Linked DNA regions of Homo sapiens: regions 1, 2, 4 and 5 are each linked to region 3. Evidence: fine-mapped expression QTL. A gene starts in region 3. Each other region holds a variant in brackets. All regions are shown on one strand. Distances are from middle to middle.

Region 1 (6,472 bases), 340 kb before region 3:
GTAGAAAAATTGTTAGAAGATATGTTTTGAGGGTAGGGGTAAATTTCAAGTCTTAGGAGTTTTTTTAAAGTGACAGAAATAAGTGTGTTCAAGTAAAAAAAAAAATCATAAAAATGTCCCAGTTTTATCAGCTAAGTGAGCAAACTGCAAAGCTCTTAGAAAAACATTGCTTTTTGCTCACATCAGTTACTACGTCACCTCTACTGGCTGTATCTTTTCCTCATCAGTACACTAGAAAGAAACCAGGCCAGGCTTTCAGGGAAGGCTTAAGTGATGCTTCCTATAGTTTTCACAGAGCCTCCCAACCTCCCTTCTTCTTAGGCCTGTCAGTCAGCTGTATAGAGGCCTTGGTTTTGCTTCCAGAATGTGTTATGATGAAGTTTTGAGGTTTCCTCAAAACTTTCAGCTTTTTCTTAAGGAGCACATCTTGTCAGGGTATGATTTTACCATGTCACCAAAGTGCAAATACAGACTGCACATGGCAAATGGAGAAGTTTGGTTGACAGGGCGATAGAACTGAATGGGCATTATAAAAAGGGCTGAGATTTGGGAAGAGAAATGGTGGTAGAATTAGACATTTATGGAGCAAAAAGGGATGTCAGAAATCCTCACACAAGTAGGTGGAGAAGTGGTGTGTTCAACATCACAAAGCCACCATGGCTGAGCCATGCTTCACTAGAAATCAGACATGTTGGAAAAGATGATGGCTTTCCACAGCCGTGGTCCAGGAATAAAGTCCAGCCAAGGCCCTTACATCTGGGAGAAAGTAGGACCTTTGTGGATGTTCATCCATAGAGAGAAGTAGAGTGCTAGCAATAAGTGTCAGATCAGGCATCCTTCTAGATTGTAGTTTATCCAACAATACCCCAAATAATCAGTAGTAGGGAACTGCTCATTTGGGCATGAATTTCAGATAACATAGCTATTAAAGTTGCTCATAATTCTTGGGTTGTGGGTTACAAGGATCTGCCTTCATAGCCAACATTCATGCATTGTAAAGTCCTGACTGCTACAGTTACCACTTGATATTAACAAACACCAGCATGGGCAAGGTGCTCCAATGATCATCCAGCTCTTGATTAGGGTATTTTATTTCATGGCAACACGATACATATAGCACACAATGAAGGCCCATGGATGGTGGCAAATTAACCCACTGTACTGGTGTGGACACCTTCATTTTGAAGTTTTATCCTCATTAAGAACTCTTAGCTTACCAAAAAGATGTATTTGCTTATTTTCTTTTAAGCAGTATTGCGTTTGGAGATGAAAGATGTACACAGTATTGTCGCTCACATGATCCCTTCCTACATGAGCCAACACACCTTAACAAGCATAAACTACTCAGTTAAATAGTATGTTGACCTTTGAGAAACCTTAACCATGACATAATACACTAACACATTTAAATATTAAGATGGCATATAAATAACATCATTTTTATGTATATATTTTCAACTTCCCTCTCAATCACTTTCTTAGGACATTGTGAACAATTCAAGGAGCCACTTACTTGGATTGTTTAAAAACTATCTGGCCAGGCATGGTGGCTCACATTTATAATCCCAGTACTTTGGGAGGCCGAGGCAGTGGATCACTTGAGGCCAGGAGTTTGAGACCAGCCTGGCCAATGTGGTGAAACCCCATCTCTACTAAAAATACAAAAAATTAGTTAGGTGTGGGTGTATGTGCCTGTAGTCCTAGCTATTCTGGAGGCTGAGGCAGGAGAATTGCTTGAACCCTGGAGGCAGAGACTGCAGTGAGCTGAGATCACCCCACTACATTACAGCCTGGGTGACAGAGCAAGACCTCATCTCAAAAAAAAAAAATAAAAATAAAAATAAATTAAAAAAAAATATTTCACCCAACAAGGCTCTATTATCAGTGGCCACCTTGGGTCTCTAGTTGGATCTTCTAAAGCATTTTGTAATTAAGTCTACTTTGATCAATATCAAAATTTATGCCACCCTGAAGGATAAGTCTATACTCTATAGAAAGGATTGTCAAGCTTTTTCTGTAAAGGACAAGACAGTACATATTTTAGGATTTGCTGACTGTGTGATTTCTATTGCAACTTCTCAACTCTGCCTCTAGAGCTTGAAAGCAGCTATAGACAATATGTAAATAAATGGGTGTGGCTGTGTGACTAATAAAACTTTATTTACAAAGACAGGATTTGGTTTATGAACCATAGGCTTGCGGAGCTATAATCTATGGCATCTTTGTGAAAACATTCACTCATTTGACAAATTTTTATTGAGTACCTATAATGTGGCAGGCACAGAGCTAGACCAGGAGAGAGCAGTGAACAGACATAGTTCTTGACTTTATAGAGTTTATGTTCTATCAGAGAAAAAGATAAACAAATGGGTAATTATAAAAAGTGTTAGGACAGAGAGAGTCTAGGGCATTTATGAAGATATATCTTCTTATTCAGGCTTTAAATAGAAACCAGACTGGGTCAAAAGCTGGGTCAAAAATGGGCCTGGGGAAATTTAGTGTAACCTATCTGTGTTGCCTTTTAATTTTTTCATTTGTTTGCTTCCCTTCTGTGGATTCAGACCTTTTTCAGGAAGTAAATTAAGCTGACACCTGAAGAGTGACTTGGTGTGTGGTGAAAAGGTGGGGGGAGGAGGAGATGGCATGGCAGGCAGGGAGACTAACAGTTGGCAGAAAATAGTTTCTTAAGTAAGCCCAAGTCCCTTGAGCAACTCAGACTTTGTAGCCATGGAAGGTCAGCCAAGAGCCCTGATTTACATGAAGTCGGCGAGAGAACAAATGTGAAAAGAATCAGAAGAAAAAGAGGATAGAGATGCAAAGAAATTACAGTAATCAAGAAGTCGCAGAGAAGATTAAATATTAAGAAGTCACATCACTTTATGAAAGCTACTTGCTGGCAGGCTTATTTAGTTTTTTCCTGACCTAATTTATTCAAATTTGAGCCCAAAGTCTGGCACTAATTTGCATGTCCAAGAGTCATGTTTGTCTTGAAATCTAAACCCCATCACATTGTAAATGTGCATTTGAAAAGACAACAAATGTAAATGCCTCTTCTGAATGTTATTTAATTGCATTTGGAAAAGAAAATAATTTTAAAGTTGAAAACAGGGAGACTCATTAGCAGCTAGCATTAATACTAGAATAAGTTACATACTATGTGTCAAAAGTAAACTCTAAACGATATTCTTCTGTAATCATTTATTCCCACATTGCAGGGATTGCACCAGGGACTGTTGTAATAACGGATATAGCTGTAGACTCCTTCTTTAAGCCCCGGTTTGAACAGGTCATTTTGGACAACATTGTCACCCGAAGTACTGAACTGGACAAAGAACTGTCTGAAGAACTGTTCAACTGTAGCAAAGAAATCCCCAACTTCCCAACCCTCGTTGGACATACAATGTGTACCTATGATTTTTATGAAGGTGAGAACAATTTATAAACTGTGAAGGAAACAGAAAAATGCCAGCAA[C/G]TCTTTGTTATTCAAACCCATAATTTATATTAACAACTCTACTTAAGAAAATTAATATTTGTGGGTTAAAAAGGAAATGAAACAGCCTTTTTTACTTACTAAAGCATAGAAACACAAGGACATAATGAGCAGCAGAATGAATTTATATTGAGGGTGGATTTAATCCTCCAAGAACACATTGAACACTAAAATGCAATTAGTGATGTTCACAGAATCTTATCTCTGTTTATGCCTTTAACTTAAATTAGCAGCTCTAAGAGAAGGGAAGTATGCTGATTCTATGTTTCTGCCATTCATCTGTACCTCAAAAATGATCCTGTCCCCCGGAAACAGTGGTCCAGAAAATGGGGAGAAATGCTTGGGGAGGGGGTACAAATCCCACGGGATGGCATGATCTCAGAGCGGGGTTTTTATCTCTCAGCCATGAGTAAGGGGTCCCCAAACCAAGTTTAGAGACAAATTGAAGATGACTGCTATGTAGCAGCACTTGCTACTAGGGATGAAGGGCCAAGGGGAAGAAACCTTCAAAGACAGACCCCCGATTCTTTCTCGTCCCAGAAGAAAGAATCTACACAGTATTGGTACCATGCCTTGAAGGGCATTCTGAAAATCTGGCAGTAGTTTTATTCTTTTCAAAATCCATACTATTTCATTATAAATTACTTTTATTTTCCCTTTAGCTCAAACTTAAGATATATTGAATTTTAAAAAATTATGTTTGGAGATAGGTCATATTATCTATACATTTTACTTCCGGTTAGTAAAGGTGGTTTCACCACATATTTGTTGTAAAATAGAAGGGCTGTTGGGGTCCAATAGGGTTGGGACCCTCTGTTCAAGGCCACTGACTCATAGTCCATCTCGAGGGTCACTCACTGATATGTTAAAGCAGAATTTGCAAATGGAAGCTTGTTAAAGTCAATGTTTCCTTTGGCCTGCACAGTATTTTTAAAAATGTGAATTATTTTGCCAACATTTACAATATCTGGAGATTTTATATTAACACCCACATTTCTGGCTTTTTGAAATAACTAGCATTTAAAAATGTACACCAGTATATGCATGACAGCCTTGACAAGCCCTGACCCACATCTGGGGCTACATTTGCTGAAGGTGAGGTGAAGCTGCTCCCCTCAGACCAGACACTCGCATCGACATTACCTGCTTGGCTTCTGCGATGTCTGTGTTTGAATCAGCTTAAATAGAGGTGGTGGCACGCAGCTCTAATGAGAAGAGAAGGAACAAGGGGAAGCAGACTGCCAGGGGTGAAAGTAGCGTGAAAGAGATAGAGGAAAGGGAGAAAAAGAGAGGAAAGAGCACCAAAAAGGGGATTGTGAAAATAATGGATGGCAACAGAGTGCTATTAGCCCACTTGCTTGAATCCAGGTCTTCTCAGGAGTGAGGAGGCATTAGGAGGTCTATTTCTGGGTGTGCACAGGGTACGGAAGGAGTAATGACATCAAGGTTTCCTTTCCTTGCTTCTGTCCGCACTGGTAGATACAGCTGAAATTCAGTGATGAATGAACACTGGGAGCAGCCTGGAAAGGAAAATGTGATCACAAGGGGTGGCGTGCAGCCTGAGAAGTGTGCGGAAAGGGGGAAGGTGGACAATGTCGCAAAGGCATATGGAGAGGCGCAATGTCCAAACACTGTCCTGATCCTCAAGTAGCTTAGCATCATCGAAACCTCTTTTTTTTTCTCCCAGCACCCATCCCTGGGCCATTCCCCAGTCATTGGAGCAACCTGAGATTTTCCTCAAAGGGCAGCTCTCACAGCAACCCCCCGCTTCCTGATTTCCCTGGGCACAGTGCTGGCTGCTGCAGCCACTCAACAGTTACTGACCCCAGAACTGAGGTCCTCGGCCATGAAGGCTCCTTCCTACGTATGAGACTCCTCAGCTAGGGACAGCATCGCTCCACAGTCCTCTGGTAGGAAGAGTCACACAGCTCAGTTTATCCTACACGGGGAGCACGCTGTAGAGTTAGACAGCGGCAGCGTGCTCCAGCCAACAGCAAGCCTCCTATGAGGCCACTGTCAGTGGGGTGGGACATCAAGTCACTAAACGTTCTCCCCTCCCTTTCAGGCCAAGGCCGACTAGATGGAGCACTGTGCTCCTTTTCCAGAGAAAAAAAGTTAGACTACTTGAAGAGAGCATTTAAAGCTGGTGTCAGGAATATTGAAATGGAATCTACAGTGTTTGCAGCTATGTGTGGACTCTGTGGTCTAAAAGGTAAGCTTTTCGTGAATGCTTAGGGTCAAATTCTCCTCTTTCATGAAGCTACTTTTACACCTTAGGAGAAGAAAAAGAGGTCCAGCTATATATTACCTTGGGCTGAAGGCATGACTTATAATTGTATATAATATACATTATCTCATAATATCTTGTGAGTGGCCAGGACATTATTCTTATTATGCAAATAAGGAAACTAAACCTCAGGGTTCAACAGCTAATTGGTGACATGTTCAGGGCTTGACAGCAAGTTCAGTTTCCTTCATCCTGGTGGTGGCTAGTAGTTTCTATTACAATTGAATTTATTGAGACAAGATACAAACAAAATATTCCTAAAATAGTCCATCAATCATAATTTTAAAGAGCATGGTCAGGGAAGGATGGGAGAAGAATGTGCCACTTGGATATCTGGGGGAAGAGCATTCTGTTCAATGCAAATCCAAGGCCACAGACAGGAGCATTCAAGGAGAATTGGAGGAACAGGGAAGAGATCAGGAGGGGAGAGGCAGTGGTGGAGAATGGGAGGAGAGAGGGAAGATGTACAGATTGTGTAGGACACTGTGAGAACAATGACTTTCACTCTGGGTGAAATGAGAAGCCACTGGAGAGCTCTGAATAGAGAGGTGGCTGGATCTGACCTGTGTGTTAACAGAATCACAGTGGCGGCTCAGCTGGGAAGACCCGAATGGGGTCAAGGGCAGAAGCAGGGAGAAGAACGAGAAGGCGAACGCAGTAGTCTAGTGAGAGTTGATGGACAAAGTGATAGCAGC
Region 2 (6,472 bases), 340 kb before region 3:
ATGGTATCTCATTGTGGTTTTGATTTGCATTTCTCTGATGGCCAGTGATGATGAGCATTTTTTCATGTGTTTTTTGGCTGCATAAATGTCTTCTTTTGAGAAGTGTCTGTTCATATCCTTCGCCCACTTGATGGGGTTGTTTTTTTCTTGTAAATTTGCTGGAGTTCTTTGCAGATTCTGGATATTAGCCCTTTGTCAGATAAGTAGATTGCAAAAATTTTCTCCCATTCTGAGGTTGCCTGTTCACTCTGATGGTAGTTTCTTTTGCTGTGCAGAAGCTCTTTAGTTTAATTAGATCGCATTTGTCAATTTTGGCTTTTGTTGCCATTGCTTTTAGTGTTTTAGACATGAAGTCCTTGCCCATGCCTATGTCCTAAATGGTATTGCCTAGGTTTTCTTCTAGGGTTTTTATGGTTTTAGGTCTAACATTTAAGTCTTGCCGATTCCCTTTCCATAAGTTCTATGCATTACTGAGAGAGGTGAAGTCTCAAACTATGCTTGTGAGTTTATTAATACTTTATTTCTGACAGTTTTTGCTTTATTTTTTAAGCTCTGTTTTTAGTTTTTATACACTTTGAATGTTATGTCTTCTTGGTAAACTGACTCTTATGGTTATGGAATATCCCTCTGTCTCTGGTAATTTTCTTTGCTCTGAAGCCTATTTTGATATTAATATAGTCATTCCAGCATTAGATTAAAGCTTGCATGGTCTATATTTTTCCATTCTTTTACTTTTAATCTGCCTGTATCATTATCATTATAGACAGCATATAATTGGATCATATGTTTGTTTATTCATTCTGAAAATCTCTGTGTCTTAAATGGGTGCTTAGACACTTTGCATTTAATGTAATTATTGATATGTTTGGATTTAGGTTTACCATTTTATATTTGATTTCTGTGTATTAAGCTCTGCTTTCCATTTCTTTATTCCTCTTTCCAGCTTTCTTTTGGGATAGTTGAACATTTTTTAAATATTCCATTTTTATTTATCTGTTATATTTTGACTATATCTCTTTGTTTTGTTTCAGTTTTGTTTCTCTGCTTATTTGTTTTAGTGGTTGCTCTAAGGATTACAGTAAACATATTTAATGTTTAAAAATCTACTTTTAATCAATGTTGTACGACTTGAAGTGGGACATATAGACCTTACAGGAATATACAGGAATCAAATAAACAAAAGAAGTGCAAACTTATACTCTGAAAACAACAAGCATTATTGAAAGAAATTTTGAAAGCTCTAAGTAAATGGGAAGACATCCTATGCTTATGGATTGCAAGATTTAATATTGTTAAGATAACTATACTACCAAAAATATTCTACAGATTCAATGCAGTCCCCATTAAAATTCCAGTTGCCTATTTTGCAGAACTTGACAAGCTTCTAATAAAATCCACGTCAAAATGCCTGGAATGCAGGATAGCCAAAATAGTTTTTACAAAGGAGAAAAAAGTTGGAGGACTCGCACTTCCCAACTTCAAAACTTATTACAAAGTTATAATGATAAAGACAGTGTGGTACTAACATATGGATAGACATAAAGATCACTAGAACAGAACCAAGAGACCAGAAATAAACTCTCACCTTTATGTACAACTGATTTTCAACAAGCATGCTAAGACAATTTATTGTGAAAAGAATCATCTCTTCAAATGGTGCTGGGACAACTAGATATCCACATGCTAAAGAATAAAGTTAGATCCCTATCTCACACCATATTCAAAAATTAACTCAAAATGGATGAAAGACCTAAATGTAAGGCTTAATTCTATAAAATGTTAGAAGAAAACATAGACATAAATCTTTGTGACCTTGGATTAGGAAATGATTTCTTATGTAAGATACCAAAACACAAGCAATAAAATAAAAATAAATAAATTGAACTCTAAAAAAAAAAGGAAGTTATCTATTCAAAATCAACATCTAAATATGTCTTTTATAAAATCACTAACTGGTATCCTCTAATCTCTCACTAGAAATTTTAGTAATATGCAATGCATTTTGAATGTATTTATATTCCCTTGTTAACACAGAAAATGCATAAAATGCAATAGACCAGATTAATACAACATGGCATAGTTAAGCCTTTTAAGATGCTAGGGATATCTAAAGCTGAGTTTTTTTCTGGCAATCATTAGGCAAAATCCTTAACATATTTTTGTAATGCCTCTGACTCCTTCCCAGTGTGTTTCTAACTTCTTTGATAAAACCAGGACAATTGATCATTTTGTTTGAGACATAAACACAGTAAGTGTCACTTAAGGTCAATGTTGGTTGGTGGTCTTCAGCCATATTTTACTTCTCATTAAAGCAGCCAGACCGAAAATTGTGTCCAGAGGTGGTGTTTAGTGAGTCTGGTTTAGGAGTAAGGAAGGCTTTAAGAACCAAGCTGCTTCTGTCTGTGCATATGATCTTTATGTCTCCAGAAATATTCAGAAATTCCTGTCGATTATAGCAATATCTACAGTTCAAAGGAGAATTCAAACCACAAGCTATTCTAACATCTGTTTTGGTTTTATGGTCAATCTGAATAGTTGTAATTTACATTCACTGGCACCACACAATGAGGTTATTTTCAAACTACCGTACTGTGTTAAAAAATTTCCTTGGACTTAGATCGTGAGCCAAGTCTTAACTATCCATACCAACAAAGAAGAAAATTCTAAGAATTATCAATAACTAGTTTAAAACTCACCTGAAACCATGGTCTTAACCTCTTTGCTACCAGTCTTTATGGCAGACTTCTATTGCAGTTCATTACTAGCTTAAGGCTTCATCAGAGAAACTCATAAGAAGGCAGAGAAAAGACAATATTAAGGGTAGAAGAGAAGCAGAGGGCGTGGATACAGGGTTAATTACACCCCTAATTGAGAAAGAGAATAGCTCAGGAATTATTGCTAAATGGAAACAAGATGCATCATGTACTCAGACCACCCAATAGTTAGAGTAAATCATTTGTGAATGGGGCCGCCTATTCTATAACCTCAGTTAGGTATTTCGTTAGACAGATATTCTTTATCCCTGTGATGGACCTTGTCAGCCCTCCCAGTCCTCTGTCCAATGCTGCCTACATCAGCCAGATACCACCAACTGCCTTTTCCTCACTAGAGGACTCAAACCAGCTTCCTGTGTACTAAATTCTGCAATACAGGAAAAGTAACAAGCTCAGAAGCAGGAATAGAAAATTGCTA[C/T]ATGATATAAAAAATAATGGTTACCATTTGCACATCACTGAGAACGTGTCTGGACTTGTGCAATGTCCTTTGCCATATGCAATCTCACGTTCTTCTTTCAAAACTCTCTGAGAGGTACTGTGTTTTTCCTATTTTGGAGATGTTCTGAGGCACATCGATTATTTGTGTGACACTGAGCAAGTTTCTTACTCACTGATGGGGTTGGAGTTCAAAGCCAGGTTTACCTAACCTCAAAGGGCAGACCCTCCACTATGTTGTCTTCTCTCTCTCTGCATTTTCCTCACCACTTACTTCAGAATCCGGGAGGACTTGACTCTTGCCACCTTGCTGTGGCCTGTGCTTCCTCCTGGGTGTGAGAGTCTGCTACTGCTCACCCTCTTGTTGCTGACCCGTAGTGCTTCTCTGCTCCTCTCCCTGGCGTCCACCTCTCCCACTCCTGGTACCTGGGGCTAGGGTACCCCTAAACAGACTGTTGTATGAGTAACTGCCAGACAATTGTATTACCATCTTCTATTAGACACCGTTGACTGCAACACCTATCCTAATTTCAGAGAAGGTAAAATGTGAATAAAACAAAAACAAAAATAAATCACTGGAATTGATGAAATGCCACAGGGAGATCCCACATTTACAATAATAAGGCTTGTTCCATGAGAATTTCTTCTGAATAAGAAATTTAAAAGTCTTGACATGATTCCTTTAAAATTTTAAGTTCACATACTCCATTTCACAATACAAATTTATGATGGGGGATGGGGAATCAGAAAACATACCTAAAACTGGTGGTTCTCCTTTTGCTCTTACATCACTCACGTGCCGTGGCCTCAGAACTTACATCCTAAGCATATGTCATGGTAATGCTCAACAATAGGCTGTCTATGTCAATTTAAGATGCTGGTTGGTGTTCACTATAAACAAAAACACCAGGAAACACCTCCTTGAATAATATCAACATTTATTTTGATTTTGTGATTTTCTTTACAAATTTAGTGCAAAAAACTTTGCATCTGTTGCTTTATTTACAGGTTGATGATGCAAATTAGCTAATTCATGGAACATAAACCATGACATCTACACGTGTTCTTAAGTAAATTAACTAAAAAGTAAAATAAAAACATTAGAGTTGAAACTGACCCGTGGTTCTTATCCCAGTTACTATGGCAGGCCCTTGTTTATTTTTATTAACAGTTTGTCTGTGTCGGTGGGAGCCCCAACAGAATGAAAGCATTTGCACTGTTTATGCACAAGGAGCTCGGGTTTGAGGAAGCTGAAGAAGACATAAAAGACATCTGTGCTGGGACAGACAGATACTGTATGTACAAAACCGGGCCTGTGCTCGCCATCAGTGTAAGTATCCATGGTTGCATTTCAGCTAGTCATTGCAGGCTAGAGAAAAAAGTGGGAACTTTTACATGTAGGAGTTCTTTTTCCCTCCAGCTTCGCATTCTTACACAATCAAACAAGGTGTCCAGGTATGAGTTCATTATTGGAAAAAGCCCCCAGGGCAGAACACAGCATGCAGCATCATTTTTGTTTATTAGTTACCACTTAGGTATTCAAATTAGGGGGAAAATACTCAAAGCACCCCTCCTTTCTCTTTACTTTGTAACTGGTTAACACCCCTCACCCCCGCCACGGCAATTTTCCTTCTTCTATCCCTTACCCAGCTTTGGGAATGTTGAGCTTTTAGTACACAGAGGCTAATTTTCAGGACTGCTAAAGTGCTGCTGTTTAACACCATAATAAGCTCGCTGAAAAGCTGCTAATGCATTTCTACTGAGCTCTTGTAAATTACTCTCCTGCATTTAGAACATGTGAACAGTTATGGAAGCACACAGTGCCCTAAGACAAAATGAAAGGGGAATGATTTGCAGTTTTAGGGAAGATGCAGACCATTTCCCCCTTGGACTCAGCTGGGCACACACTGATGAGGGCGTATGTGCATAGGCATCCCATTTGCCTTCCCATGTTTGTCTCTCTGCACAGGGCTGTATTCTGAAGCAATAACTCTGAAGCCATCACATTTCTGGGCACTGCAACCCTCAAAAGAGGCACAGGCAGGCATGCCAGGGGACAGGGGAAGAGTCTCCTGCACAGGGTGGCAATTCTAAGGAACTAAGCTGTAAGTGGCTCCTACCATAGGGAATAGGCATCATCCATTGATTGCCCTACAGTGTGGACAATCATTGATGAAAACCTGCGGTAAAGAAGGGAAAATTATGCAACACCAATAAGGCAGCTAAATTGCTCTCCTCTCTGGGCCAAGAGCGCCTGAAACCTGCTCAAATGGGAGAGTCCATTCAGTTATTCACTTGTGCATTCAATAAACCATTACAGAATATCTACATTAGAAGGAAGCTGAATATCCACTGATCTTGGTAAATTTTTTCTTACCAACATTTAGTGGACCTTTAGACTATAACTGTTTTTTGTATAGTAAATGGAGAAGGACAAAAAAGTAAGTTTCTTAAAAATGTGACACTACCATAAATAAGCAGTAAAACTTCACAGTAAGAAATGAAAACAGCAATAGACTGATCCTGTCCTGTCTGGGAAAAAGACCTGAAATATGTGTGATGCCAAGGTTACCAATTAGAAATGGGCCTTACTAGGCAGGCAGGGGATTGACAAATGTGATTCCTTCTTTGAAAATTCTTCCTCTCCAGTAGTGGTTGAATGGGGTGCGTGTGTGTGAAAGAGAGCACAAGTCCATTTGTCATTTTATCAATGCGTAACATAATAAGTGGCAATCATTAACTTACTAAATGTCTGAACTAGAAGGAATCTAATAGATCAAATAATAGTTCATCTTCTTATTTTGCAGGTAAGAAAAAATAATACTTAGAGCATTTATTCATTAGTCACAGAGCCAGTTCCAAAGTCCTAAACTTGTTAATCTTGGATATACAAATCAATACAAGTTCGATGCCTGGCTCCAGGATGCTTACTAAACATTTGAAAGTCAGGGCATATGCAATGGGAACCAGAAAGGGGTAACGCAGAGGTTCGAAGTTTCCATAGCTCAACATTCTTGATAGACGGAGGAAGCTCAGGTGAAAACATCATGGTCACGGCCAATGGTTTTCCAAAGTCTTTGTGTCCAAAAGTAGGACACATTGAAGAGCACATTTGACTCTCTGCTGTTATGTCAGGAATTAAGTTACTACCAGTTTTGAAATCAGTTCCAGTTTCTGCAAATTACAGAATGGAGGATGTTTCTGGAGAGTTATTAGGACATTGTGTAGCCACCAGGAGTTGCTAAATCCTGTAGCCTGTGTTG
Region 3 (6,472 bases):
CTCCTTTGCCACCCACCTCTGTTTTAACATTCCTCTTTAAAAAGAAAACCCCAAAATTATCAGTATTGGCGTACTTTTTGAAGATTTTATCTTCACCTCCCCCACTCCTCCATAGACACCCAGGTATGACAAGAGACTCAGTGCTCCTGCTTCCTCCTATTCCTTGCTGCCTCTGCTATGCTTCTTAGGGAATTTACCACTAATCTTTAGGGGATAATATGAAAAAAATAAACATTGGAAAGTTACAAAGTTTTCGTAATCTTAAAAGTTTCAGGTAGACTTCTTTCTGAGCTGGTAATTGAAAAGTTGTTTGGATTTCTGCTGTTTACTTTCGTTCTTGAGGGTGGAGTCACCAGACCTCCTAATATTCTAACCTTGCCCTGGGCCCCAGTGTCAGCCTGAGCACAGGCCCTCTCCCCACCCCTACTTTCCAGCACTTTTCCCAAGGTGGCCAGGCTAGCAGTTTAAATCATCCTCTTCTCAAGCCAGTCATTTGCATTTCTGTGGATCCTCAGGCTAGGTAACAGTGGTTTCATTCCTTCACTGGAAATCTGGAATTGGGCCATTCCAACTTGGAGGCAAAGGACATTTTTGTAGGAGAGAACTTAATTGGCAAAATAAGCTAGGATTTTGAGGACAAAGAGCACAATCTTCAAAATCATTTCAGTGGTATTCAAGGGCCAAAACATTGGCAACAAAGTAGAAACCTCAAGAAATTCCCTTCAGACAGTTTCTTGGTGAAAAGAAAGGCCAATAGATAGAGATGGTGGTAGGGTAGAAGGAAGGTGGTTTTACCAAAAGCCAGATATTTGGAAGGCTTAGGAAAAATCTTTGGAGGAGAGGGTGTAACACATCATGTAAGAGAGAAATTATAATCAATAGAGCAAAATCCTGGTAGAGAGAAGATGGCTCATGTTTAGGAGCATAAGTGGAGTATGAGCCTTGAAGAGAAATGTGGTCACCCTTCTCAGCCATGACTGAAGGAGGTGAAGATGTGTGAAAACTAGGACTGAGGTTTAAGAAAGTTAAGTTGAGGAACCTCATGGTGGATCCTTCAGTAGAGTACGAGGCAAGATCATTTGCAGAAGTGCAGGAAAACCACGTAAAGTGGGGGCTTCAGGAGAGCAGACATTGGACAGGTTTGGAAGTGGCCTGGATAATGTTCCTGGATAAGTGTTCCAGATAATCATCCTCCTGATGAGGAAAGGAACTGAGAATCAGTGAAGACACAGCCAAGTCTGAATAGCATGAACTTTTAGTGGAATGAAGTGATTCTTTAACCTTGTCTAGCAATGCTTAGTAGCGCAGGAGCAAGTTCAAAAGAAACCTTTCAACTAAATACAAAAATAAACAAAAAAATTAATGTTGAGTGGCAACTTATTTCAGGGGACATTATTCATGGTGGATTTCAGTAACATTTTAATTATGACAAACACGAAATCTACAATATCAAAATAGTCATCTGAGAAAAACACCCACACAAAAAGATTATTGGAGTAATAATCTTTTATTTTCTTCTTTCTATGCTAGCCTAAGGCAAGAGAAAAGACCCATTTTTTCTTTCCATTAGACACAACTTTCATTCATTTGATGTTATTGAAATTTAAAAGAAGCAAAATCATTGGTATCTTTTCATTAAACATGTGTCTCATATAACAATTTGTGGTTTACTTTTTCTGTTCTATAAACAAAAACACACATTAAAAAGCCGGAAGAAGTAAAAAACAGCCTATTTCCATGATGGCCAGCCATGGCACAGCACTTCCTGGCCCCTGCTGATCCCTTCTCAATTCTGAAAATATTTAGGGGGAACATACACACGTTCACCTGTTTTGTTCCACAGTCCTACCCTGTGTAGGACTGTCAACTGAGTTCACATTTTACTACAAATGTGGAGAGGTTTTTTTTTTTCCAATCAAGGCACCATATTAACATTTCTTAGGTTACATCTTTGTAATCTTCAATTATAGTAAGATAAAAACCAGTAGCAAAGCATATCACCCAACTTAAAATTCAGAACAATACTTAGACATATGCAGCTTGCACACACATTAACCTGTTTCTCCCAACAAAATATTTGTAATTTCCAAAATCCTATCAGCTTTTTCACACAATATGGTCCCTCCAATTTGAGGGGTAGTAACATAGTCTCCTTACTAAAGAGATTAGTCTAAAAAAAGTAAAATCGCCAAAAGAATGTAAGAATATCAGTGGCTATAGGCTAGAGCAATATCATCTTTTAAAGCCTAATATGTTCATGAAATCTCACTTTAAGAAGGTGATATCTAAACATAAAATTTATTGACAAAAAACAATTAGTATTGATAAACCACCACAAAATGATTTTAAATGAAAGTAGAAGACATTATTAAAGCTCAAGATTTTTGCGTGTACTGATTTCATGCCTCAGGTTATTTCCATATCAAATTTAAAGAGATACTGGAAAATAGAAAACAAAATCCATCAACTGTAATCCATTTCCCTTACTCTTTTGTGAAATCATCACAAGGTGTGAAGGATTGTTTCTGTTTCCTCTATCTTTAACAAGCCTGTAACCTCTCAAGTGAAAGAACATGCACCTGTCAAGCTCATAGTGCGGGATGTACACACAGATGTGTTTAATAAATATCTGCCCACAGGGAGATTAGAGGTTTGCTTTGAGAATCAGGGAACAGGCTAGCTCATGTGTTGACGCTTTGGCATCTATCATACAATCCGCCACCTCGTTCCCTTACCAAAATATCCTCAAAGGAAATCCTCTTTGAGTCTTTCAGAAGAGTTATGAGTTTGAGGACCCAAAACGTTGAGGAAAGATCCACCCCAGGGAAGGGGGAGTGGCTGCAGAGAACAAACATAAGTAGGATTTAGGTGGCTCAGTGACGTCAGGAGGAAGCAGCGATGGAAGGGATGGGGTGCAAACTCACCTGGAGAAGCAGAAGCTGCACACATGTCAAAGGTCAAAGGGCATAGCCTCAGGGACTCCCCAAACGCAGGAAAAGTGAAACGCCCACTCCTGGGCTCTCGCCGTCAGGGGTACATCTAAGGGCTCAGCTGTTCCTACCTTTGACGCCAGGGACAAACCCTACCAGGCACAGTTGGGATTGGCAGTAAGGCAAGGAAAGCCTGCCCCAGATTTCAGAGCCAGCGCTGGGGAATCTCCCTGTCCTCTCCGCCACCCCCTCCCGCGCCCGAGACCTGAGACACCTTCTCTCTCACACCCACCCTCTCCAGGCCCTCTCGCGCTGAACAGCATCGGTCTCTATGGCGACCTGAAACCGCAGCTCCCATTGGCCTGTTCAATATGAGGGCCGGGCCAATGGGGAGGGCCAGCCCTCTCCTTCCCGCCAATGGGGTGGCGGGAGCTGGCCCGGGGACGGCGGCGTGCTGACGTTCCCGGGAGCCCGGGGCTGGCCGGGCGGGAGGGCTGGCAGCGGGGCGGGCGGCGGCGGCGGCCTCTGGGCAGTAGAGGGGGCTCCGGGGCTGAGTCCGCGTCGACGCCGGCCGCGGAGGCGGCACCATGGGCAAGGGGTAGAGGGGCAAGTTGGCCACCGCCGCCGCCGGGGGTGGTGGGAGAGCCGCTCCGGGGGCGGGGGCCGGTGGGGGAGGGAGGGGCGGGCAGCCGCGCCGCCGCGGCACTTTTTTAATTTTTTCGGGTGCCGCAGCGGCGACCCCTCGGCGCCGATGTCCCTGATCCCTGGAGCGACGACGGCCGCTGCCTAAGCTGGAAAGTAAGTGTGTGGGCTCGCGGGAGGGCGCGGAGACTCCTGCCCACGAGACCCTCGGCCCTCGCCCCGAACACGCGCCAGGGCCAGGACCTGCGCGCCGGGGGCCGGGGGCCTCCCTCCCGCTGCCGCGTCCCCAGCGCCTCGCGGCCGCCGCGGCTTTCCTGCCCCGCCTCGTGTTCCTGCCCGCACTCGCCTGCTGCTCCCCTCCCCCCGGCAGGCGCACAAGTTTCACCCTCCATTTGCTTTTCCCGGCGATTCCTCTCCCCGGTCTCCCGTACGCGCAGCGCACGACCTCTGCCCACGCTGGGCTGTTCGGATTCAGAGCTCCCAGCCCCGAACTTGAGCGCCGCGCTGAGCCCTGCTGGACGCCCTCGCGGCGGCTTCCCCGCTGCCTGCCGCCGCGCGCCCCAAGTCGCCCTCGACACCACTGGGCGCCCGCCCTCCTCAGCACTCGGGGCCGGCTGTCTGTCCTTCTAGCCCCAGATCCTGCACCTTGGTCCCCTCCCCGTCTTCCCACGCCCCTGCTGCCCGCGCGGTCTTGCGTTTGTCCCCGAAGTCCTGTACTCCTTGCCGGTCCTGCCCACCCCTCTGCCTAGTGCGCCCCTCTCTACCGGCCGCGGATCCTCACGCTCCACCCCTCCCGGCTCCCCAGCGCCGAGCCTCGCCGCTGCCCTCCTGCGCCGCCGCTTCCTCCTCTCCCTGCCAGGAGTTGAAGCGGAGCTGCGGCACCTCCCTGGCGGATCTGGTATCCCCGCCCGCTGCCGAGGCTGCCGGCCCTCTCCCCTGGACCGCTACCCGGAGAGCGAGCGGCGGGGCCGGGATTTGGCTGCGTGTTGGCTGAGTGCGACACACCGCGAGCGCGGGCAGTGGAGGTGCCGCGGCGGCCGTGGCCGCTCGGGGCGCAGCGGTAGTCAGGTGTGTGTGTACAGCGGGGGACGCGCGCTGCCGGCTCCTGGGCTGGCGACAGATTGTGCAGGAATGCGAGGAATGCACCAGGGGCAGAGTCCACACAGCCCGCCGCGGCTGCCCTAGCGCCTTCCCTCCCCAGCTCTCGCCGCGCAGCCAGAGGTCACCGGAGCATCTTCGGAGCTGGTGAGCCTCATTCCACTCCTCTCCTCCCATAGCTTCCCTCCATGCGGCAGAGGGGAAGCGCGGTAATTCTTTGGGGCTCCAGCTAGCCTTTCGTCTGGGTTTTTGCTGCATTGGTCTTCAGGACCGTGAATTTGGGGCCGATGACTGTGTAGCCAAGGTTATTGATCATTGCACAGGGCTGTTGGCAAGTTTGGTGTGCAAGGTTTGGATAGTGCCTGGTTTTCACTAGGGTTTTCTGAAAACCAGCAGAAACAGGGGGCCTGAAGGTTGTTAGAGTAATGAGCTTGCAGCCAACATATTTTAGCTCTATCAAAAAATGCCTGTTAGTGCTCACGGGCATGTACTGCGAGAGAGATCTTGAATGCATCACTTTGGTATCCTAAGAAGTGTAATTTTTTTCCCTCGTCATACTGGGCTGTGTTTAGACCTCGTATAATACATAATGAATAGAAACAGAGAAGCACTGTTCGGTCAGCGATGGGACAGATAGAACTGTCTGGTACAGTTAAATTCGGGACGTGTCAGTTACCATTGAAAGTAACACGGGGACACCACAATCATGTATATTTCAAGATGTAATTTATTAGTGGAGGTCTCAGTTTTTTCTCTTTGTTACTGAGTTTGACTGAAAAAAAAAAATAAATGCTGCCCTACAAGTTTTAAAGAACGGTAATTATTTACGTGTAAAATCAATGATGGCTAGTATGCATTTTTGGTCAAATTTTGTTTTCCTTAATACGGGAGAGCAAAATTTTGACAGAAAATGGTTCGCTAGAATTGAGCTTAGATTCTTTTTATTTTTAAAGAGAAACTAGAAGAATGCTTCTCTTCTTGAATGCAGTATATTGCTGTAGGAGTATCTTCGTTTTGGTGCCTGTGAAACAGTTATGGAAAATGGCAACATGAAAACGAGAACAACTAATGTCTGAAATAAGTGTTTCTGGGTGTTGAAAAGCATCATATGTGTGTTTTTATTTGACACAATTTGCTTTGCAGGTTGCATTTATGATAAACCTCTTTGCACCTGGTTATTTTATGTCAGATTCAGTAAAATAATAAGTCAGTTGTCTGACCAATCAGCTTTCTTCCAACACCTACTTTGTGTAGATCATGGACATTGAAAACTATTAAATAGGAGCCTTTAGTTAAGGACTCAACAGAAAGGAAAAAAAATAGAAAAAAATATTTTGCACTCAGAAACGTTTATGTTTTGGTTGCTACGTTGTTTTTCAGCTATGTGCATAATCAGTGAATCTTCTAATTTAGAGGTTTAATTTGTGTCCAGTAACACTGTGGAGGATATTGGGAGGTGTTTGTAAATGCCAACAGGAAACTTTTATTATGTAACAGTATCATATTACAGCAGTGTTTAACCCATGCTTAACCCGTGCTTTTTTGACTTGATGTCAAGATTGGGAAGTAAAAGCAAATTTAGTTTCCCTGCCGCATTAGAAATTGAAAACCCTGTTCAGATGTATGGATCACACACACACACACACACACACGACACACACACACACGATTGGCTGTGCAGATAGTTTTGCCTGCTTCAGGTAAAGGTAACCTTTCAGTTAGAAATGCTTTCTATTTGTTACAGATATTCAAAGAGTGGAAGTTTTTCAACTAGTGATCCTACACAATTGAAAATAACCGAA
Region 4 (6,472 bases), 120 kb after region 3:
CCCTACTTTTAAATAAAAAGTGTAGCTACATCATGCATGTATAGGCTTTCCTAGCAACTCAAGAACTGTAAATTGTTTCTGTGGGTACGTCAATCAAAGTTTCTAGTTGTAAGATACAGAAACTAACATGGCTAATTAAGCAGAAAAGGAATTCATTAAGGGATTATTAGTGAATTCCCACATTTGTTACAGGTACTGGAGAACAAGACTTGAGACTAAGATTCCAGGAACGGTGTCCAAATTTGTGCCACAATGTTGATCAGATAAAGAAACTATTGTTATAGCCACCAAACACACAGAATTGTGTATGGAGGTTGTTTCCATGTCAGGATCTTGACCTTGAGACCTAATGCAGGAAGCACAGCAAGAAGGCAATAGAGAGAGAAAACAAGTGTCCTCTTTGCTGGAGTCAGAGTCTCAGTGTCAGCACCTGCATCACAACCTGGCATGAGTGTACTTTCTTGGCAGAGCCAAAGTCACCCGTTCTGCTTTTGAGGGAAGGAATTATGAGAAATTCCAACTTCTGCCTTCAAGCAGGAACTTTCCCAGCCATTTCCTTGAAAGGTTGTTTACAAGGTCACAGGCAGCCACAAACATGATAAAAATTCATTCCTGTACAATGGAATTTGTTTCTATGAATGGAATTTTTTTTCTATGTTCTTATTTGCAATGTATCTTCATACCATACTGTACCTGATATGGTAACTTTTGCCCATCCCAAAATGAGGACAGTACTCCAGCCCTCAATCCCTAGTAGCCACTGAACTCAGAGGACGAAGGTATTGTGATGGCTTGGGGAATATTTTGGGATTCCTGAGTAGTCTTTTCCTGGCCCAGCTTGATACAACCAGGCAGTCTTGTGGGAAAAGATGCATATAATGACAAGTGAGTAAATGAAGTGAACAAATAGAAGTCTATAACAAAAAAAACAAAATGATGCTGTTTAAGAGCAAAGAAAGAGTAAGTGTGAGGTAAGCATAATAGTATTTTCAAATTGGTTATCTTAGCCTGGTACTGAATGCTGAACAATTTATGTCTATCTAGTCTTTTGTTACTGAACATTTATTAAGAGCCTAGGAATTGTTAGGCAGAGGCAGGCATTGTCCCACTTACCGATTATGATCATATTGTACAGCATTATTGAGCCAGCTATTATTCATCTAGGCCCTGTCCAATACTGCCACACCAGTTGGGATCATTAGGAAAGGATTCTCAGTATCAGAAGATGGTAAGGAGTTTAGGGACTGTTTCTTAAAAATTATTCCAAGAATAGCTTGTGGAATTTGCAGAGCCAGTACTGTCAAGCAATTACATGTTTGCCTGATTTCACAGGGAGTTCATATACTTTTCAATTAAAATTTTTAATGGCAAACGAATGTATACATATAATCATAAATAATATTTTAGGTTGTTTTATTTCTGAATAGTTTCTAGATTTAATACTCATATGTCTGGTATTTTGAACTAGCAGTCATCAAATTAAACTACTTACAGTTCAGCATTTGCTTTGAATAGACTTGTGAGGAGACAGTATGGCACAGGGGAGCTTGAGATGCTATTTGTAGCTTAAAACCTTTGGAATGTACTTGATCTTTAGATATTTTATAACATGACATGTTTTCTACTTACTAAAATCCCATCAAGCTAACAATGAGAGAAATACAAATAAAGTTAAAACATTCTCTCCTTTCATAGAACTTGTTTGCCTTCACTTTGCAGCATAGATTCAAGAATATAATTTCTGTAGACTATCTTCCAGCTTTTGAATATATTTTAAATTCTATGTTATGGCTTAGTCTTTTTCACTTCTTGTGTTCCTTCTCTCCTTTGCACAGTGGCACATGATTGCTTTTGGACATAGCAAATTTTTGTTGGTTATATTATAGATAAATACGGCAAGACTTTTTCTGTGGCATTGGAATCATTTTTTTTCTTAATTAAAAGACTATATCAAACATGGTAAAGTGATTCTGATCACGGGGATTTATATTTTTTTAAACTATGCTGACATATAGTATAAGAAATATAAAAACTAGCCATTGTTTGCTGTGTCTCTGATGTAGATACATTAAGTAAGGTCTCTGGAAGCCTTAACTTTAGTAAGGCACTGTAGCAGAAGTACTGTTTGAAGACCTCAGAACCAAAATCAGAAAAGGCAAATAAAGATCTACATGGTTTTTATGCCAAATAAAGGCTGATATTCTATTGCCTTTAGATTTGAAAAAGCTAGGAATCAATAGGTCATTTATTTCATCCAAAAATTGCATTTCACAAAGCCACACCATAGCTTTATGTTATGGGTACGTTCCTATGTTTCCTGTGACATACATTAATTCATATATCTGCCTGAGCAGCATACCTTGGCGCCTTATATGCCTTTTATTTTCTTGAATCACAGGAGCTTCAGTTTCAGCGACTCACCCGAGAACTGGAAGTGGAAAGGCAGATTGTTGCCAGTCAGCTAGAAAGATGTAGGCTTGGAGCAGAATCACCAAGCATCGCCAGCACCAGGTACAGGGCCAATGGCTCCATCTTTATGCACACTCAAGTTACATGCCTTACTAGGTTGTTCTCTATGCAGCAAAAGATTCTGTTAGTGTTGTTACTGTTAACTTGCCTTCCAGAATTTGAAACCAAAAATGTCCATTTATTCTAATTTTGAGAAGCCTCTTGCAATCCCTCAGTCCTGTGCTTGAAATGTTTTCTATAGCATTGGCAAGCTTCTGTAGCAAAAGCTACTGTGCTGCCTTCAGATTCCTCATATGTACACACAGTTAATGGGTGTTGTCGTGATTAATTGCTAATTATTTGGTAAAGTTAATTGGCTGGTGCTTTGAACACCTGGTATTGATTTTTTTAAAACTAAGAAATATTTCTAAATAAGATTGCATTAACTTTAAAAATGTCTTCAATTTACTT[T/C]GGGTTTTTCTAGAACTCTATGAATCTACCACACAAACTAATTACTATATGGAATAATTTACTGTACTCACATACAGTAAATACTAAATGAGTGCATTACTGTAAAAACATAATCATGATTGTTATTTTTTATTTAAGTACCTCTTATGCTATTTAAAAGCATAATTCCTGTAAAAATTACATGTTCCGAATAGTTAAATCACTGCTTATCCTATCTATAGATTTCTTTCTTAATAATTACATATTTCTGTAAAGCCTACTGTAAAATGCTTTCATTGCTTGCAGTTTTAAGTTTGATCTGCTTACACTTAGGTAGACATGCCTGCAATAACTTTTCTCTCAGTTATTTCTAACCTCATAATTATTCTACTTTTCAGTATCTTGTGTTACTCATGGGCAAAAAAACTTCTTAGTGAATAGAATTCTGTCTGTTGTTTCTGATTGTTGGTATGAACATTAAACTATTGGGCTGGTAAGTTGTAGTAATATGAATTTTTCATCTCTCTTAACAGTTGTGTATATTGATATGTTTGGTAAGGCATAAAGTATATAAATAAAGGTCGTCAAAACTTTTACAAAACAAATATAAGATTATGTAATTATTTTATAAATATCCAGGAAGGTTTTTATAGAAAGAGAATTATAAGCAAGGTATAAAATAATAAATTAGAAATTTCTAACTCAGACTTTGCAATACCCAATGAAATAATTCGTTAAGTTAAAACTGTGAAAACAAAAATTAGCTTTAATTCTCTATAATATTTTTTAGAAATTATCCGTATCTTTAGCACCAAAAAGAACAACTCACAAACTCAATAATATGGTATTATATATTTCTAAAAGGTATGAACCAACTGGTTTTGTTTTTCTAACCAGAATTATATTTTAATAGAAAAGTAATTCAACATTTAACAGAATTCTGTTAGTACTTCTTATTCTGGCAATATTACTAACTAAATTAAAATAGAAATTCTCTTGATAAACTCCTAGTAATACTTGGTATATCAATAATAAAGACCAATACCTAGAGGAAATGGCACAAGAGGAGGGAAAATCCCCAGATATTGAAACTAGAAAGAGCACTGAAAACCAGAGCCAGAAGCTTGAGCTACCTCTGTAGGAGATGTGAGAACAGTTGTCAAACCTCAAAGTAAGCACTAGAGGTGGATTTTATACCCATAGAGGAGCTAAAGAATGAAGTTTTGTGTGTGCTCAAGATGGTATGTTTGAACTTAACATCACTGCACTAAGCCATGTCCTTTAAAGGACCCCATGATTAGCAAACCCCAGGCTTCTATCATATGTGGGTTTGGAGCCCAAATGTAACTATCCACATTGCTCAGGAGTCCCCAGTGAGAAAATGGCACCACTAAAGATGAGCTCACAGTGAGATAGTATAAAACACAAATTTATGAATGACATCAGCAAGATGACAGAATAGGACTTGTCAGTGCCCATCCTCTCACAGAAACTTCAATTTGAACAACCATTCACACACACAAATACCTTCACTAGAGCTAAGGAATCCAGACGAGAGATTACAGCACCTGAATGTAGCACAGAAATAAGAAAAGATGTATTGAAGAGGGTAGGAAGGACAGTTTCACACTGTGCTTTGTTCGTCATGTATTTCCAAATTAGTTCTGATTTTGTAAAAAAAAAAAAAAAGCATTGAATTACATATCATAAAAAAACTTGACCATGAGTGAGAGAATCAGTGAGCAAAAGAGTAGGGTTTCACAGTCCAAGAACTGGATACCATTGGAGGAAGTCTGACAGGTGTGCACAGTAAAACAGATACAAAGCATGCTCATTGCAGCACCATTTGCAAAAGTAAAAAATTACAAAGAACATACTTATTCCTTAGAATGGAAATGGAAAATAAACTGTTAATAGGTACACTCTAAAGCAGTTAAAATGAAACTCTAGAGCAGTTAAAATGAAATAACTAGATCTACATGTATCAACATGGACATGTTTGCAAAACAGACTTGAAAAGCTGTAAGTTGCAGAAGAATAGCTGTAGGAGGATATAATCTATGAGCAATTTAAAATATATATATATAGCTATATATATATTGCTATATATATAGCAATACTGCATAATAATTAAATAGTACTTGGTATTGTTTGTCAGTGTGTGCATGTGGAGTAAAATTATAAAATATTTTGGAATGACACCAATTTAAGATAGTGGAACCTCTAGAAAGGAAGAAAGGAGGACGATACTAGGAATTAGGCTTTTGCAGAATCTGTAGCATTTTATTCAAGAGCCATCTGGAGCAAATATAACAAAATGTTAACAACTGTTAAATGAGGGAGTGGTTGATATATGCATGGCTATTAGATTATGTTCTGGACTTGTGAATTTTAAAATGTTAAATAATTTTAAGGCTATATCGTTCATTGGCTGGTTCCATATGTTTTTTTAAAATCTCTAAGTAAAGTACATATTGTGGGTAGTAGTTTCTGTCAGTGACTTTTTTTGTGGTTCCTGTCTGGTTCTCAGTGCCTGGCATTTGTGCCTGGCAAGTGACTGTGGCACCACCAGTGAATGTCGGGTGAATGAATGGGTCATGCAGAAATGGGAGTGGGGTTGACCAGGGAAAGGAGGAAAATGTGCACAAATGCATATATGGCCCCACAAACAGTTGTCCCGAGCAGTAAGAGGCTCAGTGTCTAGGATATGTCCTAAAAGGACCTACTGGCTTATGAAATTGGAAAGGTGAAGCTGGCATTTAATTGTGAAGAACTTTATTAGATCTTTAAAGGAGACCAACTGAAAGTTGTTATTGGTGGTGGTGATGGTGATTAGAAGTTTTCCTTTTTTGAGAGTGCAGTGTGTAAAACAGAATAAAGAGGCCAGGCAGCCAGATAGGAATCTATTATGAAATTTTAAGGGTTATGAGTAAGGTGGGTTTCTTCATTCAGTGATCTCTGAGCTGTGGTTGGAATGGTAATTGATCTACTTGGATTGCCCTACTTTCTTCTCATGTTGAATTCCCATGTATTCTTGATGTCCCAACTAAATGCTTACCCTTCTTTACAACCTTTCTCAAGTTTCTCAGGAAAAGTCACCTCCCTCATCTGAATTCCCATCACTGTTTCCCTGTGCATGTTAGCTGCTCAACAGGTAGTAAGGCTCATTCCACCCCCATGGCCCTGGCACAGAGCCTGGCGCTCAGCAAGTGGGCACCCAGCCAAATGATCATTGAATGGATAATGAACCTTAAGTCCAGGATGCTTCGGGCACATCATGTAAAGGTGCTTTGCCATTAGGGGAGCTAAAGTTTTTTATTGTGTCACTTGAGAGATCCCCCTTGCATCTCCAGTGTGTTTCAATTGTCAGTCTTGGAACCAGAATCTAAGTGATACAGAGAAGAACAGAAATTAGCTCTTAGACCCAGGCCCCCTTTCCGGTATGCCATTTCCGATTTGCTAAAAAATAACAATTAAAAGTGGAATTGTTGCTTTGGGCCATCAAGCTTCTGTTTGATTCAGTTCGTTCTTGCATGAAATGAGTTTAATCAGCAAACTGGGGGATTTGATCACC
Region 5 (6,472 bases), 320 kb before region 3:
GTAGAAGAAAGGCCAGGCTGGGAACTCCAAAGCTAATCTTTGCTGCTTTTCCTTTTTCCAAAGACCAGCCCTGTTTGACTTCTGCTGTGCAATGGGCATTTGTGCCCAGCCCTGCTATCTTTGCCCACTGTTCATGGGAAAACCTTGTTGAAAGTTCATTCTGAATCAGAGAGGTGGGGTTAAAGTGGTGGTCCATAGGGGTGCGTGGATTCCTAAGGATTCATGAGTGAATTTTCAGGGGCCCTGGGACCCCTGAAGTTATACACAAATATTTTGTGTGTATTGGCAGATGTGTATTTTTGTGTGAAAAGAGGTTCCAATTAGGACTTTCATCAGATTTTCAAAGCAGCCATAAATGTTCCCAAAGGGTTGACAATTACTGGGCAGTCCTAGTTCAGCTCAGGGTGCATCCAAGCTCCATGTTCAGGTCTGTGTGTTCCCAGAACATTCTAGCCTCAGGTCAGTTCACTGACAATCTCCTTGGTGGCAGCTGGGTCACTAAGTATCTCTTCCTCCCCAGCAGCCACCCTCCCTGCCTAATCTGAGGATTTTGCTAGCAAAGCTGTCAGGCTTAATTTCAGCAAATTGTTTTGGGTAATTAGTCCCTTTTAATTGCTCATGGAAATAGTAATTTTAAGTGACAAGATTATTATATGCTGCTCGCTAGTGGATTCTCCAGGGTCAAGAAAACACCACTGAGATTGCTATAACCTGTTCTTTTCTATCTTTGGCATTCCCCTTGAAATCCAGAAAAGACATTTAGTAAAGTCGGTTCCCACTCTGTAAAAAGTATAGAGCACTGGTTTCCTTTTATCCTTCTGCCAAAGTGAAGGATTAGAGAAGGACTTTCAACTTTTCTGTGCGACTGCCAGCCCATGTCAGGCTTCACAGATTTGCTGATCATTAACTTGAAAAGCTGTGGGAAGTTTCTAGCTCTTCCATTTGCTTGTTTACCTGTACAGCCAAGTTGCTTTACAACTGACTGAGTTTTGAATAAATAGGGTCCTAGGTGATGAAATATTTGCCGCAGCTCAAGTTGAATATTTTCATTGCTTTTCACGTCACTGAACAAGAGGGTCAGTCTGACCGATGGGTCAGTATAACCGATAGGGCAGGATTGCCTAATGGTTCACCATGTGCTAGCTCAGGGGAGGAGTGGATGGAAGGTAGAGAACTCTTCTCTCATCAGTTTAGGAAGCTAGGAGTTGATTGGCTCTGACCAGCTGTGTAATACTGGGCCATTTGGTTGATCATTCTAAGCCCTCATTTAATCATCTGTCGAAAGAGGACAAAAATAATCCTAGCTCAAGGAATAGCTGTAAAGGATTAAGTGATATCATAAATGCTTGGCATGTAGCAATAACTAAGTCAAACAAAAAAGATACATGGATTGGAGAAATGTGGAGAAACGCATGGAGAAAACATTTCTAAACTGATACATCTGATAAGAGGTAATACACAGAACATACAAGGAACTCAAACAACTCAATAGCAAGAAAACAAATTAAGAAATGGGCAAAGGATCTGAATAGGTTCTAAAAGAAGACATACAAAAGGCCAACAGATATATTAAAAAAAACACTCAACCTCACTAGTCATCAGGGAAATGCAAATTAAAACAATGGCGAGGTGTCGCTTCACACCTGCTAGAATGGCCATAATCAAAAAAGACGAAAGATAAAAAGTGTTGGCAGGATGTGGAGAAAAGAGAACCCTTGAATACTGTTGATGGGAATGTAAATTAGTACATCAATTATGAAAAACAGTATGGTGGTTCTTCAAAAAACTAAGAATTCCCATATAAGCTAGCAATCCCACCTCTGGTACATATCTGAAGGAACTGGTATCAGTGTGCTGTAAACAGACATCTGCTCTCCCAAGTTTGTTGCAGCATTATTCACAACAGCCAAGATATGGAATCAACCAAGTGTCCATCAACAGATGAATAGACTTTTAAAATGTGGTATATATACACAATGAAATACTACTTAGCCTTTAAAAAGAAGGAAATTCTCTCATTTGCAACAACATGGATGAATTTGGAGGCCATTTTGTTAAGTGAAATAAGCCAGGCACAGATAGACAAATACTGTATGATTTTACTTATATGTGGAATCTAGAAAAATCAAACTCATGGAAGTAGAGAGTAGAATGGTGGTTACCAGAGTATAGGGGAGCAGGATGGGGAACGGAGAGAAACTGGTCGAAGGGTGCAAAATTTCAGTTACAAGGAGGATTAAGCTCGAGAGATCTATTGCATAGCATAGTGATGAGAGTTTGTAATAACGTATAGTGAAAAATCTTTAAGAGAGTAGATTTTAATTGTTTTCACCATAAAAATGCAAGTATAAGAGATGATAGATATGTGAATTAGGCTAATTTAATCATTTCACAATGTATACATATATCAAAACATCACATTGTACCTCATAATTATATATAATTACTATTTGTCATTTAAAAATAAAGATAGCATGTACTATTATAATTACAGTATACTACTTCTTCCCAAATCTAGATCTTACAAAGAAGTCTGGAGTAGCAGAGAGGTCAAAGAAATAAACACTACCCTCATGCCCAACTCTCTCCATGCCTTCCAAGTTTGTTAATACAGACACATCCAATCCAATCACATATGTACTGAAATCCTTTTTTAAATGATGCAGATTCAGATGGAGATTATTACACCGTTAGCAATTCAAAGTGGCTAACACTGATTTCAATGTGGGTAACCACATTCCTTGAAATCAAAGATTTGATATGAAACTGACAATAAAGAATTCATATGGAACTCAATTTTTCTTGCTGATGAAACCAAAGACATTGCCCTTGTGACAACTTTTCAAAAATAAGAGTTTCATTTTTTAAAAAAGACTTTTGTTTTTTTTCCTCCAGTTTCCTATAAGATTTCATTCTCATTCTTTAGAAATCAAATGCTAATACATTTCCTCTTTCATGGTGCTGCTTCTTACATTTAAGCATTTCATATCATGTTTTTTCCTCTCAAATTTCATGAGAGCCAGTACTCACGTTTATTGGTATTTCCTGAGGTCAGCGTT[C/G]TATATCTCTTCTGTATTTACTTTTTTCTTCAGCAAGGGCTGCAATGCAGCAGGCAAACTCAACCATTGCACCAAGGAGAAAAATGTCACCTTGGGAATTACGGCTAGTTCTCCAGTTATATCCTCCCGTAAAAGACCCTCCTCTAAGAACTGGAAATAGGATAGAAAGCAGGAGATGGCATATCTCAGATTGCAAAGCTTTCTCCTTTATCTTGAACATGATGCTTTCCTGAGCCTTAATCTAGTCAATTGTGGAGGAAAAGAGGAAGGAGGAGTGTTCACAACAATTTTAGTTAACTTATTTAAATGAAGTGTTTGGTGGGATTCCACAAAAATATTGAAGACCAGAAGGTTCAGTAGGTTGCATCTACATTACAACAACAACAACAAAAATACACAAAAGTACATGTGCTAGGGATGCTGGTGTGTTTGGCTAATGCTTCTATAGAAAAGATGAACCCATTCATTCCATCAGTTGTGCTAATTGCTCTTCTAGCTGCTGTGGTCTGTGTGACACTTCTCGACAGACTCGACTGTGATCAGATCAACTTGCCTCATGATGTCCTGGTGGAGTACCAGCAACGGCCTCAGCTCCTAATCTCCAACTTCATCAGACGGCGGCTTGGACTTTGTGACTAGACGTCCTAACTGGGCAGCCCAACCCTCCCCTGCAAGTTTGTAGCTCAAGTTGTAATGTGAAAGTCATATTTTATTTGTGGCATTTTTATATAGTTCTCATCCACATGCTAAATGGAAAGACTTTATGAAATCCTTCTCTCTTAAAAAGGAATTTATTGTAAAAGAATACTCACACTAAATTAAATTCAAATTTCATTTTAGAATAAGTTAACTAAATCAGTCTAATAATTAAAATTTTAAAACTCCTGGATTATGACATTTGGAGTTTCATATGCAGCATTAATTAAGCTCACATCAAAATAGACCAGCCATTTGCACATAGTTACCAGTCACTCTGTTTCTGAAACCAATCCAGAAATTCATGTTAGAACATTGTCAGGCACTTCTAGGTATTGGACAAGTGACAGAAACTGATCATCCATATTCAAAATATTTACAGAAAAAAGTGTCAGTGAAATGTAGGTCTATATGGAAAAGTTACCATTAGGAAAATATGGCCATACTGCTTTTTTACCCCTGCACTATTTCAGTGCACCACAGAATAGGATTCGAGATTTACATATGCCTGTTTGTGATTTTATCTCAGAATATAACAACTCTGGATTACATTTTCCTCTCAACTGAAAACCCTCAGTAATGCAAAGAAAGGCCTTCCTTTTTCTTCAGAATCACAAGTGACTAAATTGCCTTCTAGCCATTTTTTCTTGTAAAAAAAGTGTTTTGAGGAGGCTGTATTTTTTATTCCATTTCAATATTAACCAAATAGGCTGAGAAATTCATAGCAATTGAATTAAGACTTGAGTTCAAGATGTTAAAGGAATCCTTTTGTATGACTTGTCCAGACCGGCCTATTGCCCTACCCGTTTGATTCTCTGGGAGGCATGGTGCTCCTCCTGGCTGCACATGCTCTCTGTGAACTGATCGCATCTTGGGTTCTTCTCAATTTGACATACTTGGGAGTCGGAATGACTGGATGGGGGATGGGTAGAGGATGACTGGCACACTTGTATAGTATGTAATGTTGTGTACATATTATTTATATGGTTGTGGCTCAAATAAAGTTTAATTCCAACACAGTACAGATTATTTGGATCCCAGAGCCATTGTCACACATGACCGAATGGAGGCTTGGGGCAGGAAATAGGTCCTAGGCCGGTTGAGTCTGAATTGGCCTGCTCCTGGGTGGGGAATGTCTTTCTCTTTCAAGCAATGACAATAAACAAGAGGTATTTATCATCACCAATAAACAATCCCCCAAGAGGTACATTGGTTTGTGAACTTCTTTTTGGCACTAGAGACACTTTAAGTGCCATTTTTAGGGTATCTCAATAATTGACCATCAAATTCAAAGATCAGAGCTAAAAGCAAGCTAGAATAGCATTGCCGTCATTTTCTGATGGGATTTTTACTTTGTTTCATATTTTTTTAGACCATGTAGTGAAAACCACCTCAGAGAGGCTTCAGTTTGAACTTTTATCTGCCTGCTCCTGGACAATCTTTTTTTTTTTTTTTTTACACGGAGAAGGAGAGGCTATGAGAGGGAGAAGAATGAAATAATTACAGTTAATCTTCTCTTCAACTCCTGCAAGGAGTGTGTGCGCACAGGTGCATGCATGCATGCATTTATGTCTGTGTCTTCCTCACTGGTATTTTCTATCTCAGTAAACCATATCACTTGCACAAGCCAGAAACCTGGGAAACCCCTGTGATGATTCTTTCTCCTTAATTTCCACAGCCAGTCAATCACTAAGTCTTATTAATTGATCCTCCTAAATATTTCCCCAGTCTGTTCATTTCCTTCCATCTTTTTGGCACCCATCCTAGTCCAGGCCACCATGATCTCTCCTCCAGGTCACTGAGGAAGCCTCACTCCTGATCACCCTGCCTCCATTCTTGAAGTTTGATTGGGTTATTTTCCTGCTTCAAAGCCTTCACATTGGTCTTAGAATGAAGACCAAAGCCCTCTGTGCAGCTTAGGCATTCCTGACTGGGCCCAGCTTGGTAGCCCAGCTCACCTCACCCACTTCTTCCCCTTGTGTCTGCCCTCCAGGCACATCACCCTTGGTCCTTCAGTCTTACCCAAGGCACAAATTCACAAAGGCACAATCCCTTGGGAAGGACTGCCAACAGATCCATCCAATGGGGGTGCTTAGCTGCGGGGACAAGTGGGACTGAGATCCACCCTGTCCAGCTAGCTGTGAGACCTGGACAGGGTGAATCTCAGTCCACCCTGAGCCACAGTGACTGAGAGGGGCCTTTTCCTGATTTATACAATGGTGTTATATGGGATAGTGGGAACTCTTAGTGCCAATGTCCCTTCCCATTTCAGAGCCTTTTGCTGTCTACTCTCCCTGAAGGGCCCTCGCTTAACTCATGCTCATGGTTTAAATCTCAACTCAGAGATCCCTTCCCTTAGAAAGTCTTTCTAATCCTCAAACCAGATTCCTTCCATGCTCACCTGTAGTCCCCCTCCAGAGCCCCCTCGACTACTTCTTCAAAGTATGCAGCTTGCAACTATGTCATGATTGGGGTCATTATTTAATTAATGCCTACTGTCTACACTATAAGGTTCTGGAGAACAAAGACTGCACATATTTTATTTGCTTCTATCGCTTCAAGCACCTAAAACAGTACCAGACACATACTAGGCACTCAATAAATACTTGTCAAGTGAAGAATGAATCCTTTTCATAGCATTTCCCTTGTAAACTCTCACTATAATCTCACAATCTTTGCAAGACTCATACTTTCCTTATTCAGTCCTGGTCAGCACA

Alleles and levels. Alleles are on the strand shown, and positions count from the first base shown. SD is a standard deviation of normalised expression in the study named. Not every link is listed here.
For the expression in whole blood of the gene that starts at base 3,462 in region 3, C is the high allele of the variant in region 2 and T is the other (moderate effect, 0.65 SD a copy in GTEx).
For the expression in monocytes of the gene that starts at base 3,462 in region 3, T is the high allele of the variant in region 4 and C is the other (large effect, 1.7 SD a copy in Quach 2016).

Evidence for each region. PIP is the estimated chance that this variant, and not a neighbour inherited with it, causes the effect.
Region 1: its variant is fine-mapped to the expression of PKP4 in whole blood (INTERVAL, PIP above 0.99).
Region 2: its variant is fine-mapped to the expression of PKP4 in whole blood (TOPMed, PIP above 0.99).
Region 4: its variant is fine-mapped to the expression of PKP4 in monocytes (Quach 2016, PIP 0.95).
Region 5: its variant is fine-mapped to the expression of PKP4 in whole blood (INTERVAL, PIP above 0.99).

What each region holds. Positions count from the first base shown.
Region 1 is chr2:158,118,194-158,124,665 of GRCh38, forward strand. UPP2 (uridine phosphorylase 2) reads left to right here. Exons shown (of 7, transcript NM_173355.4): 5 at 3,216-3,425; 6 at 5,556-5,702. Among named protein-coding and RNA genes, the nearest start is that of UPP2, 20 kb to the left of the region's middle. The variant C/G (reference allele first, on the strand shown) is at 3,473.
Region 2 is chr2:158,110,721-158,117,192 of GRCh38, forward strand. UPP2 (uridine phosphorylase 2) reads left to right here. Exons shown (of 7, transcript NM_173355.4): 3 at 4,381-4,539. Among named protein-coding and RNA genes, the nearest start is that of UPP2, 12 kb to the left of the region's middle. RefSeq lists an enhancer at 2,649-3,848. The variant C/T (reference allele first, on the strand shown) is at 3,193.
Region 3 is chr2:158,453,491-158,459,962 of GRCh38, forward strand. It overlaps PKP4 (plakophilin 4), which reads left to right and starts at 3,462. Exons shown (of 22, transcript NM_003628.6): 1 at 3,462-3,728. It overlaps CCDC148 (coiled-coil domain containing 148), which reads right to left and starts at 3,263. Exons shown (of 14, transcript NM_138803.4): 1 at 2,925-3,263. The coding sequence starts at 2,949. LOC124907900 reads right to left here and starts at 4,644. Exons shown (of 1, transcript XM_047446754.1): 1 at 3,641-4,644. The coding sequence starts at 3,964. The coding sequence ends at 3,641. RefSeq lists silencers at 3,167-3,461, 3,192-3,561, 3,782-3,831, 4,082-4,131, 4,152-4,211 and 1 more and an enhancer at 4,742-4,821.
Region 4 is chr2:158,574,873-158,581,344 of GRCh38, forward strand. PKP4 (plakophilin 4) reads left to right here. Exons shown (of 22, transcript NM_003628.6): 3 at 2,399-2,511. LOC105373715 (a long non-coding RNA gene) reads left to right here and starts at 2,519. Exons shown (of 2, transcript XR_001739137.2): 1 at 2,519-3,391. The variant T/C (reference allele first, on the strand shown) is at 2,920.
Region 5 is chr2:158,131,193-158,137,664 of GRCh38, forward strand. It overlaps UPP2 (uridine phosphorylase 2), which reads left to right. Exons shown (of 7, transcript NM_173355.4): 7 at 3,556-4,962. The coding sequence ends at 3,698. Among named protein-coding and RNA genes, the nearest start is that of CCDC148-AS1, 32 kb to the right of the region's middle. The variant C/G (reference allele first, on the strand shown) is at 3,060.